Linked DNA regions of Homo sapiens: region 1 is linked to region 2. Evidence: fine-mapped expression QTL. A gene starts in region 2. The other region holds a variant in brackets. All regions are shown on one strand. Distances are between the middles of the regions. Region 1 overlaps STK11 (serine/threonine kinase 11). Region 2 holds the start of MIDN (midnolin).

Region 1 (5,330 bases), 20 kb after region 2:
TGTGTAGGAGGGTACAGGCATTCTGTGGGGGGGGCACAGGCATGGGGGGTGCACAGGCGTTCTGTGGGGGGGGCACAGGCGTGTGTGTGTGAGGGGGCCACAGGCGTTCTGTGGTGGGGGGCACAGGCGTTCTATGTGTGTGTATGGGGGCCACAGGCGTTCTGTGTGTGGGGGGGGCCCAGGCGTTGTATGTGTGGGGGGCACACGTTGTGTGTGTGTGGTGGGGGTCCACAGGCGTTGTGTGTGGCGGGGGGGCACAGGCATTGTGTGTGTGTGGCGGGGGGGCATAGGCATTCTGTGTGTGTGTGGAGCGGGTGGAGGCACATGCCGGCTGACGCTTACGGCACATCCCGTGCGCAGGTTCCCCCAAGCGGCACCACTTCCAGCGGCAGCGGGCAGCCAGTGAGAGCACGGAGCAGGAGGAGGGGGATGCCCCCCAGGAGGACTTCATCCAGTACATTGCCCGGGCGGGCGACGCCGTGGCCTTCCCGCACCCCCGCCCCTTTCTGGCCAGCCCGCCCCCTGCTCTCGGCAGGTATTTTTCAGTAGATGGAGGTGCTAGGGGTGGACCTGTGGGCCCTTGCCCCCCTTCGCCCCCCCCTAGGCGGCCCAGGGAGCGCTCTCCAGGCCCCGTGGACACGCGCTCGCCTGCCTCCAGCGGCAAGGCCCCTCCCAGAGGCGGACTCACTGGGGCCACCTCTCCAGCATGGACCAGAGGAGGGAAGCAGGGAGAGACTGGGTAAGGGTAGGGCGGTGGGTGGGGAGGAGGGGCCCCCCGAGGATGGCGCTGGTACTGCTGCTTGCTGGTGGAGTCCGAGGCCTGAAGGGTTCTGCTGTGGTCCCAGGCCCTCTCCCACCCCCGCCCCGCCCATGCTCCCAAGGCTGGGCAGACTCCTCTCAGAAGCTGCTGTGACCACTCCGGCCAGCAGCACCCCTCCCCCAACCCAAGGGCAACTTCCCTGAAGCCCAGGGCCCACGTCGGTGGGATGGGAATGGGGCGTGGGGCTGGGGCAGAGCAGGGTTCCTGGGGCAGCCCTGGTATGGCGGGTGACCCTCACGTCTGTGCACTGTCCTCCTGCTGGTTATCCAGCATGGGTGGGCAGAGAGCCCTAGCCTGGAGCAGGGGCTGAGCTGGACTCAACCGCGTCCAGTCCATCCCCTGCGGCTCCCACGTCCACTGGGAGGCTGGGAAAACGTGACTCCCGGAGAGAAGCATGTTGACTTTTCCTGGGGGCTTCCAAGGGAGGGGGCCCCGCCGTCTGCAGTCCAGCATGGAGGCACCCTGCTTAATAAGCAGGCGCCACAGCTCAGGGTCAATGCAAGACGCATCCCCTGCAAAACACACTGGCTCATTTTAAAGCTCTCACCTTCCAAGGCCCGCCCGAGTCCCAAGTCCCACCCGCGTCCACCCTCCCTGATCCAGAGGCGGGATGGCCGGCCGGGTAGGGGGCGCGGGGCTCGGCGGGGCTCTGACGGCGCGGCCTGGCTTGCAGGCTAGAGGCGGCCGAGGCAGCGGGAGGAGCGAGCCCCGATTCCCCCCCGGAGCGCGGCGCGGGCAGCGCGGGGCCTGAGCAGCAGCAGCCGCCACTGGAGCCGGACGCCGAGCGGGACGCGGGCCCCGAGCAGGCCCAGACCAGCTACCGCGACCTGTGGAGCCTGCGCGCCTCGCTTGAGCTGCATGCGGCCGCCTCGGACCACAGCAGCAGCGGCAACGACCGCGACTCGGTGCGCAGCGGCGACAGCTCGGGCTCAGGCTCCGGGGGCGCGGCGCCCGCCTTCCCGCCGCCCTCCCCGCCCGCGCCGCGGCCCAAGGACGGCGAGGCGCGCCGGCTGCTGCAGATGGACAGTGGCTACGCCAGCATCGAGGGCCGCGGCGCAGGCGACGACACCGAGCCACCTGCCGCGCCCGCCCGGCCCCGCAGCCCGCGCGCCTGGCCCCGCCGCCCGCGCCGCGACTACAGCATCGACGAGAAGACGGACGCGCTGTTCCACGAGTTCCTGCGCCACGACCCGCACTTCGACGACACGCCGGCTGCCGCGCGACACCGCGCCCGCGCGCACCCGCACGCCCGCAAACAGTGGCAGCGTGGCCGGCAGCACAGCGACCCCGGCGCCCGCGCGGCCCCGGCCCTGGCCGGAACCCCGGCACCGCCTGCCGGCGCGGCCCGACCCGCGCGTGCGCCCTTGCGGCGCGGCGACAGCGTGGACGGCCCGCCCGACGGTCGCACCCTGGGCGGCGCCGGCGACGACCCCGCCATCCCCGTCATCGAGGAGGAGCCGGGCGGCGGGGGGTGCCCCGGCTCGGGCCTGTGCGTCCTACCATCCGGGTCGGTGCTGGACAAGCTGGCGGCTGGCCTCGACGAGAGACTCTTTCCGCCGCGCCTCGCCGAGCCCGTCGTGGCGACTCCCGCGTTGGTCGCCGCCGCCCCCACGTCCCCCGACCACAGCCCGGCCTAAGTCCCGCGTCCTGGGCCCATCTCTCTGGCAGCTTCTCCGGCGCCGCACGGGGCCTCGGCGGCGGGAGAGACGTGGGGGCGCGACGCCCCGACGCGAATGCGCGGGGACCGCGGGCCCTTCGCGCACGCGCCGGGCGACGGAGGCGCGCTCGCCGCTTCAGGGCGCAGGCGCAGAGCCCCGGCCGCCCTCGCGCCGCCGAAGTGTGCACTGCTCTTTCCGGTGCTTGCCGGGTGCTGGGCGTCGTGAGGCGCGGGCCGCGGAGACCCCGGCTGGGCGGGAAGGAAGGGGCGTGAACGGCTCTCAGCTTCGGGCTCCTGAGGACAACGATCACTCGCCCTCAGTCCCGGACGGGGCGGCCGCTTAGTCGCAGGGCCCGCCACCCGAGGGTCGCGCAGCCCACTGGGCCCGATGGAGCCGCCGCGTGCCGGGCGCGTGCGCGAGCTCGCCCGGGCGGGGGCCGCGGGGCGCTAACGGTCGCAGACGAGTTCGCCGCCCTGGGCCGGGAGGCGGCTCAACACCGTGACTGCCGACCTCCGAGACCGTTTACCTCACTGCGGCGTGTGCTGGCGGCAGCCCGCGCCGCCTCCGAGCAATAACCGCGCCGCCACCGCTGCTGCCGCCGGCCCTGAGGGAGCCGGCCCCGGCCCTCCCGCGCCCCGAGTCCCCACTGCCCTCCGCATGTCAACGGCGCCCGCCCCGCTGCCGCCCCATCCACGTTGAGACGCGAACAAAACCCAGACGGCCAGGTCCAAGCTT[CCCAAGCTTT/T]ATTTATTGCCAAATTTGGGCGGCCTCGCCCGCACGGCACCCTCCGAGTCCCCGCCGCGTCTGCACCATCCCGCGATGGCGTTTCTCGTGTTTTTCTTTTCTGGATGATATAAATATTGACCGCACACTCCTGCTTGCTCCGGGTTTTCTCTGGGGTCCCAAGAGCGCAGTGGCCTTGGGGGAGAGGTGAGGGTCCTGCCCTCCGGCCGGGCCGCCAAAGCAGGGTGACCCGAGAGCGCAAAGGCGGCCGCGACGTGAGCCCGACCCCACAGCCCCCCTGCCACCCAGCAGCTCCCAAACACCCCTCACAGCCACAGCTCAAATCCACCTTTTATTTTTTCTTAAAAAAAAAAAGAAAAAAAGAAAATGGAACCAACCAAACAAAAAACCAAAGCGGCCGCGCGGCTTCCAGGTGGCGCTGCATGCATGGCGGGGTCAGGAGCCTGGTCTCCACACCCGCCAGCTGGTCTGCGGCGGGGCCGCCGGACGGCGCTGGGCGCCCTGCGGAGCACGAGGCCACGGGCGGGGCCAGTAGTCTCCACATAAAGTGCATGGAGGCCGCCTCCCTCCTCCCACGCCCGCCCGGGAAGGCTCCGCCCGGGGCTGCGAAGTCAACAAGCCGCGTGCACTGCCGGGCGGCCGAGGGGGGAGGGCTGCGCCCGGTCCCTGCTGTCCCCCTGCCCGGCCCTGCAGGGCGCTCCGGAGGTCCTGGGGCGTGGTCGGCACAGAAGCATGGCGGCCACCTCTCCGGGAGGGCGGGCGGAACCGGCAGGAAGACTGAGGGCCTGGCGCGGGCACCTGGCGGGGCTCCTGGACACGGGCTGCAGGGTGGAAGGAAGACGGAAGAGGTCAGCCTGGGCACCGGTTCTCCGCCTCCCGCGGGCCCCTGGGAGGATGGAGAAGCTGAGGTACAGTCATGGGGCTACCGGACTCCTGGGGGGCAGCAGGGGAGGCCAGGGAAGGCCACCCTTGAGTCACTCCCGGGGTACATTGTGTGGCCTTTTGCAGTGGGGCCTGGCGGGCTCTGACGCTGGTGGATGGGCTGTGGGCACCCATTTGGGGGACAGACATGTAACTCAGGCGGTGGCCCCCAAAACCTGGGAGAGGGGCTGTGGCAAGGCAGGGGCTTCAGCCTCGGGCCCCCATCCACCCCGCATCCTCGGCAGGTGACTTAAGGGTCTCTGACACCTCTGGGACTCCGTCTCCCACCCGGGGCTGGGGCTGGGGCTGGGAGAGGAGGCAGGCACACAGGGAGAGACAGGGCAGCGTCCGGCACGACTCAGCCTCAGCCATACTTGGCAGCTGGCTCAGAGCCTGCGGCACCCCGGCAGAGCCATGGAGGCCGCGGCCCCTCCCCACCACCCACCACCCACTGGTGCTCAAAAGCCTCTGGGCTGAGCCCAGCATAAGCCTTTCCTGGAAGCGGCGCGGGCATGGGGAGGGGGCGCCAGGCCCAGGGCAGGGTCCTCGGAATGCACCCACTCTGAGAGGTGGCTGTGAGGACGGCACGCCCCCCCAGAGCCCCGCCACACGTAGGCCTCCATGACCAGCACGCTGGCCAGACACCAGGCCCCGAGACGGCACCCTCCACGGGGATCGCTACGTGGCCAAGCCACCCAAAGGCCACATGGCAACCACGCGCAGCCACGTGACGGTCACCATGACTGACTAGCGCGGGCTATGCTCACGGCTGGCTGTGGCATCCAGGCGTTGTCCCCACATGCCCCACCCGGGCCCCGCCGCGCCCCACCTGCAGGCGGCCAGCCTCACTGCTGCTTGCAGGCCGACAGCCGGCGGATCTTGCTGCTGGCGGAGCAGGCCTTGCGGGCAGGGTTGGGGGCCCGGCCCTCCGCCCTGGATTTGGTGCTCAGCTGCGCCGCCTCTGTGCCGTTCATACACACGGCCTTGGGGAGGCCCCGGCGCTGTCCATTGTGACTGGCCTCCTCTTCTGGGACCTGTCCTGGGAGGGAGACGGCAAGTGTGGCCTGAGCTGAGGGGCGCAACCCCAGAGCCACAGGGACCTGGCTGGCCCCCACCACGGGGACGCACTTACAGCTGCTGCCCAGGCCATGCCCGCCCCCGGGTCAGGCCCAGGTGTATCCAGCCTG
Region 2 (5,353 bases):
GGCCTGAGACTACAAAGAGAGGGAGGAGAGGGGCCTGAGTGTGGGGTCGGAATCCTGGGCTGGAATAGGGGGTGGAGAGGGCCCTGCTGGCTGGCGGGGTGGGGGCCCCAGGTAGTGTGTGTGCGGACAGGTACCGAGGGAGGGGCTACTGCCTGTGTGCGGGGGCCTCTGGGGGCACGCAGCCCCATGGCCATTTACCATGAGGCCCGCTTCCACGGTGGGTACCAAGGTCAGCTTGCTGCCATCACCCACGCCGAACTCCTGCAGCTTCCCCGAACTGAGCCGGCTGGGGGGAGGAAGGAAGAGCATGAGACTCCGCGGAGACGACACAGGGACGCGGAAGCAGAGGCCGCGGGGGAGGGCTGTGCTTGTGTGGGGAGAGACGGATAAGTTCCCACCCCCACCCCTTCCCGGCTTCCAGATCCAGGGCCCTAAGCGCGTGCAGAGAGGTCTCCGTCTGGTGCTGGGAGCCCCATCCTGGCGATTCGGACCCCTTCCCTCCAGTGGAACCCCCGCCCTGGACTCTGGCACCCCCTCTGCACCCCAACCAGGCACTTTCTCCTCCTCTGGGCCCCAGTGTGCTCTATGCCACCTTCCCCCACGACCCCAGGGCAGCCCCTGCCCCCAATTCCCTAATTCTAGTCCTGGCTCCTCTTTGTAGGAACCACGGGTTTCGGCCCGAGGAGAGGCCCTGGGGGTTGCGCCGGGCCGGGCTCCCCCTCCTCCTCCCTCCCCGGCGCAGGCGGCCGCCGCCGCGCAGACAAAGGAGACCCTCCCCCTCCGCCCCTCCCCCGATGGGCCCCTCCACTGGGATGGACACTGCGTGTCCCCGGAGGCCCGCGGGGGGAGGGCTCCGGGCCTGCAGGCGATTTAAATACCAGGGGGGAGGGGAGGCTGCGGGGAGCGCTCGGAGGCGAGAACAAAGGGGGGGAGAGAGACGCAAGTGGGGGGAGACAGCCAGACGCAGAGGAGGCCGCCGAGCAGATGCGGAAGCCGGCGCGGACGCAGGCGGGAGGGGGCGGTGGCGGCCCCCACACCCGCAGCCGGGACCCCCGCAACGCCCTGGGATTCCTGCCCGCCCCCAAGGGGGGCCGCCGAAGCCCGGCCCGGGACGCCCTCGCAGCCGCCTTTGTGCGGCGACCCCGGGCGGGGGAGGGGGCCGAGGCAGGCGAGGCCGAGCAGAGGGCGCCCGAGAGCGCGCGGCGCGCCCCCGCCCCCTGTCTGGCCGCCCCCTGCCTTCCCCGCGCGGCGCGCTCTTTGTTCCCGCCCGGGGGCCGGGGCCCGAGGGGGCGGCCGGCCGGGGGCGCGCGGTACCTACGTGTCTTTGTGGAGAAGAGCCAGGCGCTCCTTGGGCACTTTGAGGCGCTGGGACAACCGCTTGCGCAGCCCCTCCACCGTCTCGTCGGGCGGCACGGCCAGGTCGTAGCGGGTGCCCGTGGTGCTGTGGATGGCGAGGCTCATGGGCGCCGCCTCGGCCGCCGGGCCCAGCTCGCAGGCGCCGCCGGGGGCCCCGCGCCGGCAGCTCCGGGCGCCGCCGGGCTGCGGCTCCATCCCCGGCGCGCGCTGGGGGGCTGGGGGCGGCGGGCGCCGCCAATCCTCGCCGCGCCTCCGGGACAGGGGCGAGAGGCTCCCCGGATGCCGGGTCCTCCGGGCACTCGGGGGCGCGGAGCAGCGCGCGTCCTCCTCGAGAAAGTCCCGGCCGCGGAATGCGAGACCGAAATCCAAAATCCGAGTGGCGCTCCGAGGTCGCTCCGGCTCCTGGGGGCGCCTTCCGGGGGTGGGGACGGCACTTGCTTCTCCTTCAAAGGGCGGCGGGCGCGACCGGGACGCGGCGCGGTTAAGGGTCCTGGGGAGGGGGCGCCGCTCGGCTGGTGGCGCTGGGTGCCGTCTGCCGCCCGGGTCGCGCTTCCTCGCGCGTCCCCTCCCTTAGCAACAGCCGTCGCCGCCGCTCGGAGGATCTGGGGGTGAAAGTAACAAGAAAAAAAAGTTATAATGTATCAACGTTCCAGGGGGCGGGGCCGCCGCCCCCTCCCATTCACTACTTACTCCGCCGGCCGGGCGCCGGCCAATCGCCGCGCGCCGAGCGCCCAGTCGGCCGCGAGCCCGGGCCTATGAGAGCCGCCGCGGCACCGCCCCACGTGGCAGCCGGGCCCGCCCCCTCGCCCCGCCCCCAGCGCCCAGGCGACCAAGGGGAGCGCAGCGGGGGCGGGGCTGGCGCCTCTCCGCGCCCGCCCCCGCCCCGCCCGCGCCCGCAGCCATTCATAAGCGCCCGGAGCCCGCAACAAAGGGCGGGCGCGCCCCGGGGGGCGCGGGACCCAGGTCTGGAGACGGGTCTGGTACCCCTCGCGATCCCAAGGGAGCGGCCGGGAGCGGGAGGGGGCGCGGGCCATTGTTCCCGGCGCCGGGAGGGGCAGGAAGTCGTGGGGCCACCCCGCCGCCTTCGTCCGGGAAAAGCCGCGAGCGGAAGCGGGAGCGCGAAGTCCGCGCCTCGTGGCCGGGGTCCCGGGGCGGGCGGGCGACGGTGAGGCTAGGGCCGCGGCCCCGGGGAGGGCGTGGTGCGTGGGGGCGGAGTTGTGGCCGGGGCGGGGCGCCCGCACCTCGGTGACGTGGCCGGGTGGCTGCCGCCGGGGGCCCCGCGCGCCCACCCGCCGGCCGCGGGCAGAACCCGTTTCCCCGAGGCGCGCCCGCTCGAGCCGTGACGTGACGCGGCGTCCCCGGCTGCGCCCGCGCGCGCTCGGGGATGCGGTGAGTCAGCAGCTCGGGCGCGCCCTCTGCCGGGCCCGCCTGGGAGCGCCGCCCGGAGTCCCGGGGAGGGGGCGCCGCGCTGCCCCTGGCAGGGGAGGAAGACGACTGGGCTGCGCGCGGGGGAGGAACCCCGATCGGGAACGAAAGACTGTAGTCGGGAGACTGGGACCGTGTGGCTGGGCAACGGAGGGCGGAACGGCAACCAGTTCAAGGTCACCCGCGGTGAAGGGGGAGTGCCCCGGGGGGCGGGGCGGGGGCTGAGGTCCGGCCAGGGCGGCGCTGGCTGCGCGGAGCCCCTCCCACCCCGCACCCCGGGGGGCTTCCCAGGACCGGAGGCTCCCCGATCCCTCCTGTCCCAAGAACAAAGAAAAGTGCGGGCATCCTGAGCCATCTAGAGTGGGCACCCTTCCTCGGCCCGCAGGTCCCCCCCCTCCACACTCACCGGGCGCGGCCGGTTCTGCGCTCCAAGTGCTGCGAGTACCTTCGTCCGGGGCCGAATGCGCGCTGGCCGGGCCGGTCTGGGCCAAGCGCGCGGCCCTCAGCCTTTATCCGCGCCGCCTTCCCTCGGGGTGGAGTTAGGGCGGGCAGGGGGGCGGGGGGCCGGGCGGGCGGTGACGCAGACTGGCCCCCGCCCCTGCCTGCCGGCCCTGGCCCTGGGGCGCCTTGACGGCTGGGCCACCCGGGACCCAGGCTTGGCGCAGTTCATGGGGGGACTCCCCTTGAATGCCCCGAGCCAAGGGTCTCGGCCCGCCTCGCCGCGGGCTGAGATGCACCCCGAATCGTCAGCGGGACAGGGTTTTGGGGTGTACAGCGCGACTCGCTGCCCCGCCCCCTTCCTGTCGCCCCAGGCCCGGTGCTTCCGCCTGGGGGCGCCCGCGTGGGGGGGACGGGAAGAGGGGCCTGAGTCAGCGGCTGTCGTCCAGGAAAACAGGCTGGAGTCACCTGCCGTAGAGTGGGGGTGCCCTGGCCAGCCCTGGCCTCCTGCATCTGTCAATGGTGACCTCAGAGGGCATTTATGGAGCGATTAGCCAGTGCCAGGCCTGCCTTGTGCCCAGCCAGTCACCAGCCGGCTATGCTGTGACCCCGGGAGGTAACTGGCCTCTCCAAGCCTCAGTTTCTCCAGGGTGGGTGGGAGTGTGGTGAGGGGATGCGGCAGGATCACTTTGGGGCCATCACCCCCCATTAATGCAGGACATGCACTGGTTCCCAGCCTTTGGGGTGGGCATTACCCCATTTTACAGATGAAGAAACTGAGGCCACAGCCAATGAGACACGAATGTGGTGTGCATCTCACCCTTCCCCGTCGGCTTTTTGAGGATGGTCCTGGTTGAGGTGGGCCCCGTCCTGCCCCTCTATTTAGAGAAGGGGACCCCATTCCTACGGGAGCACCTCCTGTCCACTCATCTGGCCCCTCCCTTTATCTGGCCTGACCACCTCCACCCCCACCCTGGCCATGGGCGCCCCTCCCAGGGCTGCGCTCCTCCCCAGGTCTCCTTCCGGCTGCCACCCATGCTCCCGGCAGCCGTGGCCCCCACCTTGACAGGCACACCCAGCCCCGAAGGGTCAGGGCTAGGCCAGAGAGGGAGAGGCTGGGATAACCCTTGGAAGGGGGTCACAGGGGCTGCGGTTTGAGGAATGACTAGGAGTTTGTCACATAAAAAAGATGATGCGGTCGGGCGCGGTGGCTCACGCCTGTAATCCCAGCACTTTGGGAGGCCGAGGCGGGCGGATCACAAGGTCAAGAGATTGAGACCAGCCTGGCCAACATGGTGAAACCCTGTCTCTACTAAAAATACAAAAATTAGCTGGGCATGGTGGCATGTGTCTGTAGTCCCAGCTACTCAGGAGGCTGAGGCAGGAGAATCGCTTGAACGCGGGAGGCGGAGGTTACAATAAACCCAGATCGTGCCAGGGCACTCCAGCCTGAGCGACAAAACGAGATTCCGTCTCAAAAAAAAAAAAAAAAAAAAAAAAGGCCGGGCGCGGTGGCTCATGCCTGTAATCCTGGCACTTTGGGAGGCCGAGGCGGGCGGATCACGAGGTCAGGAGTTCGAGACCAGCCTGATCAACATGGTGAAACCCTGTCTGTACTAAAAACACAAAAATTAGCCAGGCGTGGTGATGTGCGCCTGTAATCTCAGCTACTTGGGAGGCTGAGGCGGGAGCATTGCTCGAACCCGGGAGACGGAGATTGTGGTGAGCTGAGATTGTGCCATTGCACTCCAGCCTGGGCAATAAGAGCGAAACTCCTCTCAAAAAAAAAAAAAAAAAAAAAAAAAAAAGACGATGGTCCAGGAAGTGGGAATGGCTTGAGCAGTTCTGGGAGCTTAGTGAACTGGACCCAGTTGGAGGGAGGAGGGGCAGGGTCGATGAATGGGGCTTGGATGAAGGGCTGGGGCCCCAGGTGGGAACTACAGGGCCAGGCTCATTCTGCTTCCAGTGAGAACAAAGGTGGCGGAGGGAGCCGTGGACTGGTGCCAAATGAGCAGCCCAAGCAGGACACTGGGGCCCCCTGTGAGTGGCCAGCAGCCCCCACCTCCCTCCCTGCCTCTTGCCTCTCGTGTGTGGCTCTGCCACCTGCACACCGTCACCTCAGTCTGGTCGGGAG

The links. PIP is the estimated chance that this variant, and not a neighbour inherited with it, causes the effect.
Region 1: its variant is fine-mapped to the expression of MIDN in whole blood (TOPMed, PIP above 0.99).

What each region holds. Positions count from the first base shown.
Region 1 is chr19:1,226,306-1,231,635 of GRCh38, reverse strand. It overlaps STK11 (serine/threonine kinase 11), which reads right to left. Exons shown (of 10, transcript NM_000455.5): 9 at 4,973-5,182; 10 at 3,205-4,043. The coding sequence ends at 4,989. It overlaps CBARP (CACN subunit beta associated regulatory protein), which reads left to right. Exons shown (of 10, transcript NM_001393918.1): 9 at 361-535; 10 at 1,494-3,349. The coding sequence ends at 2,457. Among named protein-coding and RNA genes, the nearest start is that of CBARP-DT, 9.0 kb to the left of the region's middle. The variant CCCAAGCTTT/T (reference allele first, on the strand shown) is at 3,214.
Region 2 is chr19:1,246,495-1,251,847 of GRCh38, reverse strand. It overlaps MIDN (midnolin), which reads right to left and starts at 3,265. Exons shown (of 9, transcript NM_001388306.1): 1 at 3,188-3,265; 2 at 1,319-1,958; 3 at 199-286; 4 at 1-9. The coding sequence starts at 1,551. It overlaps LOC102723811 (a long non-coding RNA gene), which reads left to right and starts at 3,776. Exons shown (of 2, transcript XR_007067082.1): 1 at 3,776-3,835; 2 at 3,987-5,353. RefSeq lists enhancers at 1-810, 2,655-3,188, 5,124-5,353 and silencers at 702-811, 882-951, 1,022-1,111, 1,122-1,241, 1,752-1,801 and 5 more.